Regions from separate parts of the Homo sapiens genome. Here region 2 is linked to region 1. The links come from fine-mapping of genetic effects on gene expression. Tissue or cell type: whole blood. Region 1 holds a variant in brackets; the other region holds the start of a gene. All regions are shown on one strand. Distances are between the middles of the regions.

Region 1 (2,694 bases):
CCAATATTAACTTATTAAGCATCTACTGGGCATGCTATTTGAGGAGAAGCACGAATGAATAAAACTCATATTTCACTTTAAGAATATCACAGTACAGTTGGAGAATTTACTTTCATAAACACAACATCTCAAGATTTACACTTGGAAGTCATCACAGTAAAATCAGAGTAATAAACATACATTGAAACATTAATGCATCAAGGTCTTAACTGCCTGGATGCAGACATAATATTTTAATTATGAAAATTTCACTTTCAGTAGAGGAATGAAAAACATGGAAACTGTAAAAAAAAACAATAATGAATTAATTTATTTAATTAAGAGTTTGAGCAAATATAATTTTCTAAGCTCTAAACTGTTGGGATACCAAATTGAATAAACTTTTTTCCTCAGAAAGCTCAAGTATAGTAAATCATTGTTAGAAATTTAGTATTATTAGTGCTGACATAGGATAAGTTTATATGTATAGTACCATGCAAATTCAAATTGTGTTCAAGTATTGAAAACAGGGGGCCAAGGTGGCTTCCCAGAAGAGATGGCACCTCTGTCATAGTTTATTAACATCTGTATGTTCCCACTCCTTACAGATTTCTTTATCTTTTGAAGGGTTCATAGTCTAGTAACTCTCATTCCTCGCACAGCATTTTAGAAATTAAAAGCTTCCAATTACCTTGAATATAAAAATATGTGCTTCTGCCATCATAGATATATACTGCTTAATGCTTTCTTGTACTGAAACCAATTCAAAGAAATACGAGAGAAGAAAAAAAGAAAAACACAGGGAGAGAGAGTGAAATTTCAGCTTCCACTGAGAAGTGAGATTCTAAAAGATGGAATCTTTGAGTCTCAAGCTATGACTCAGTATTCTCAAACACAATTAGATAGTTGGTACGTCCTTTTCTTCTTGGATAGGATATATTAATAAGATATCTTTATCCTGACTTATCCATGAAGGAAGAATTAATAAGTAAGATGGGGGTGCTCGTATTAACTTATTGGACTCAGTAACCAACTATGAGATGTGAGTGCTGTTGCCCACTATAGAATCATAATTAGCATTTCTCTGACACAAGTGATCAAATTTTATATTTTGAATTAATCATTTGGGTGTCCTCTTTTGTGAAGTGATTGTTTAAACCATTTGCCCATTTTAGCTGGATTGACAATCTTTTCCACTTTTTTAAAGATATACTTTATATATGCTGGATATAGGTTTGTTTGCCAGATGTATACACGACAAATATCTTCTTACAGTTTTATGCCATGCTTTTTCTTTTTTTTTCTAATAAGAATTTTTATTTTATTTTATTTTTTTATTATACTTTAAGTTCTAGGGTACATGTGCACAACGTGCAGGTTTATTACATATGTATACATGTGACATATTGGTGTGCTGCACCCATTAACTCGTCATTTACATTAGGTATATCTCCTAATGCTATCCCTCCCTGCTCCCCGCACCCCACGACGGGCTCCGG[T/C]GTGTGATGTTCCCCTTCTTGTGTCCAAGTGTTCTCATTGTTCAGTTCCCACCTATGAGTAAGAACATGCAGTGTTTGGTTTTTTGTCTTTGTGATAGTTTGCTGAGAATGATGGTTTCCAGCTTCATCCATGTCCCTACAAAGGACATGAACTCATCTTTTTTATGGCTGCATAGTATTCCATGGTGTATATGTGCCACATTTTCTTAATCCAGTCTATCATTGATGGACATTTGTGTTGGTTCCAGGTCTTTGCTACTGTGAATAGTGCTGCAATAAACATATGTGTGCATGTGTCGTTATAGCAGCATGATTTATAATCCTTTGGGTATATACCCAGTAATGGGATGGCTGGGTCAAGTGGTATTTCTAGTTCTAGATCCTAGTTCTAGATCCACAATGGTTGAACTAGTTTACAGTCCCACCAACAGTGAAAAAGTGTTCCTATTTCTCCACATCCTCTCCAGTACCTGTTGTTTCCTGATTTTTTAATGATCGCCATTCTAACTGGTGTGAGATGATATCTCATTGTGGTTTTGATTTGCATTTCTCTGATGGCCAGTGATGATGAGCAAAACAAGAAATGGGGAAAGGATTCCCTATTTAATAAATGGTGCTGGGAAAACTGGCTAGCCATATGTAGAAAGCTGAAACTGGATCCCTTCCTTACACCTTATACAAAAAATTAATTCAAGATGGATCAAAGACTTAAATGTTAGACCTAAAACCATAAAAACCCTAGAAGAAAACCTAGGCATTACCATTCAGGACATAGGCATAGGCAAAGCCTTCATGACTAAAACACCAAAAGCAATGGCAAAACAGCCACAATTGACAAATGGGATCTAATTAAACTAAAGAGCTTCTTCTGCACAGCAAAAGAAACTATCATCAGAGTGAACAGGCAACCTACAGAATGGGAGAAAATTTTTGCAATCTACTCATCTGACAAAGGGCTAATATGCAGAATCTACAAAGAACTCAAACAAATTTACAAGAAACAAACAAACAACCCCATCAAAAAGTAGGTGAAGGATATGAACAGACACTTCTCAAAAGAAGACATTTATGCAGCCAACAGACACATGAAAAAATGTGGCATGCTTTTTCAAAATTCTTTCAATAAAATTATTAATTCTTCTGATGAATTCTGTAAGTTTAAGAGGTTATTAAATTTAATACAATGCTTATTTCTTGATTTATTCCTTTTATCTAT
Region 2 (2,694 bases), 120 kb after region 1:
CCTGATTTTCCAGGTGCGTCCGTCACCCCTTTCTTTGACTGGGAAAGGGAACTCCCTGACCCCTTGCGCTTCCCAGGTGAGGCAATGCCTCGCCCTGCTTCGGCTTGTGCACGGTGCGCGCACCCACTGGCCTGCGCCCACTGTCTGGCACTCCCTAGTGAGATGAACCCGGTACCTCAGATGGAAATGCAGAAATCACCTGTCTTCTGCGTCGCTCACGCTGGGAGCTGTAGACCGGAGCTGTTCCTATTCGGCCATCTTCGCATGTATTTATTTTTATTTGTCTTAGTTTGGGAGTACTGTTTTGTTACCTCCACGTATGGATTTATATTAATTTGCGAGTACTGCTTTTTACCTGCACATACATGCTTATATCTATTTATATTAATTTGGGAGTACTGCTTTTTACCTGCACATACATACTTATATCTATTTATATTAATTTGGGAGTACTGCTTTTTACCTGCACATACATACTTATATCTATTTATATTAATTTGGGAGTACTGCTTTTTACCTGCACATACATGCTTATATCTATTTATATTAATTTGGGGGTACTGCTTTTTAGCTGCATGTATTGCACAGTGGCGAAGTCTTGGCTTTTAATGCATCCATCACCCAAACACCAGGATGGACCAAGTCTCCCTATATCCATCTGTAAGACTTGTGGTTTGTCTTATCAAATATGCTTTGCTTTGAATGTGATGTGGTATTAGAGTTGGAACGTGATAGAGGTTTCTGTACATATGCGTGAATTTTGCATTACAGTTGTAATATCTGTTACAAAGTTTTTTCAATCTCTTTTATCCTCTCAAGCAGTATATAGTACTTTGGAAGAAAAACCCATACACTCTATTTGTTCAATACCAGGCCCATTTAAAAGACAGAGAGAAAAAAAGAGATTTTATGTGTATTTTGCCTGTCTCTTACATTATTTATCTACTGAGGTAATTTTAAAATTAAATTAAATTAAATTCTGAGGTAATTTAAAAATTACCTCAGTAATGGTAACCCAATGAATGAGGTGTGTCTTTGAGACCAGTAATAGATAAAGTACTCTGTGTGTAAAGAGTATTTCCTAAATACTATTGATGGATTATTTTGAGGCTCCATTTTGAGTCCTTGAGGTTTTTGGCAGGAGCCTAGGGACTGGAGTCTCTAGAAAAATTCGTGGTTTGGCCACAGCAGGATTTGCCTTCACTTCACTGGATTTGGAGGCAGTGCTACTGGTGGTTTAGATTGCACACTCTCAGCTACATTGCCGGGGTTCAGAATCAGCTCTGTGTCTTCCTACATATCACAGTTTGCTCAACACACATGTGTTTCAGTTTCCTTTTCTATAAGTTGGGAGCTAATAATAATAGTGCAACTCCATATAACTGTTGGGGTTGAATGAATAAAATAAATATAAAAAGCATAGAAGAATGCTTAGCTTCTAGTAAGTTCTCCCTTAATATCAGCTGTTATTATTATTATTAGGATTGATATTTCTGTTCAGCAGCAGTAGAGATGGATGGAACCAATGGCAGCACCCAAACCCATTTCATCCTACTGGGATTCTCTGACCGACCCCATCTGGAGAGGATCCTCTTTGTGGTCATCCTGATCGCGTACCTCCTGACCCTCGTAGGCAACACCACCATCATCCTGGTGTCCCGGCTGGACCCCCACCTCCACACCCCCATGTACTTCTTCCTCGCCCACCTTTCCTTCCTGGACCTCAGTTTCACCACCAGCTCCATCCCCCAGCTGCTCTACAACCTTAATGGATGTGACAAGACCATCAGCTACATGGGCTGTGCCATCCAGCTCTTCCTGTTCCTGGGTCTGGGTGGTGTGGAGTGCCTGCTTCTGGCTGTCATGGCCTATGACCGGTGTGTGGCTATCTGCAAGCCCCTGCACTACATGGTGATCATGAACCCCAGGCTCTGCCGGGGCTTGGTGTCAGTGACCTGGGGCTGTGGGGTGGCCAACTCCTTGGCCATGTCTCCTGTGACCCTGCGCTTACCCCGCTGTGGGCACCACGAGGTGGACCACTTCCTGCGTGAGATGCCCGCCCTGATCCGGATGGCCTGCGTCAGCACTGTGGCCATCGAAGGCACCGTCTTTGTCCTGGCGGTGGGTGTTGTGCTGTCCCCCTTGGTGTTTATCCTGCTCTCTTACAGCTACATTGTGAGGGCTGTGTTACAAATTCGGTCAGCATCAGGAAGGCAGAAGGCCTTCGGCACCTGCGGCTCCCATCTCACTGTGGTCTCCCTTTTCTATGGAAACATCATCTACATGTACATGCAGCCAGGAGCCAGTTCTTCCCAGGACCAGGGCATGTTCCTCATGCTCTTCTACAACATTGTCACCCCCCTCCTCAATCCTCTCATCTACACCCTCAGAAACAGAGAGGTGAAGGGGGCACTGGGAAGGTTGCTTCTGGGGAAGAGAGAGCTAGGAAAGGAGTAAAGGCATCTCCACCTGACTTCACTTCCATCCAGGGCCACTGGCAGCATCTGGAACGGCTGAATTCCAGCTGATATTAGCCCACGACTCCCAACTTGCCTTTTTCTGGACTTTTGTGAGGCTGTTTCAGTTCTGACATTATGTGTTTTTGTTGTTGCTCTTAAAATTGAGACGGGGTCTCACTCTGTCACCTAGGGTAGAGTGCAGTGGTGCCACCATAGCTCCTTCGACTATTGGGCT

The links. PIP is the estimated chance that this variant, and not a neighbour inherited with it, causes the effect.
Region 2: it holds the start of OR2W3, and the variant in region 1 is fine-mapped to the expression of OR2W3 in whole blood (TOPMed, PIP above 0.99).

The regions. Positions count from the first base shown.
Region 1 is chr1:247,776,949-247,779,642 of GRCh38, forward strand. It overlaps the pseudogene OR9H1. Among named protein-coding and RNA genes, the nearest start is that of OR1C1, 18 kb to the left of the region's middle. The variant T/C (reference allele first, on the strand shown) is at 1,479.
Region 2 is chr1:247,894,075-247,896,768 of GRCh38, forward strand. It overlaps OR2W3 (olfactory receptor family 2 subfamily W member 3), which reads left to right and starts at 1,513. Exons shown (of 1, transcript NM_001001957.2): 1 at 1,513-2,457. The coding sequence starts at 1,513. The coding sequence ends at 2,457.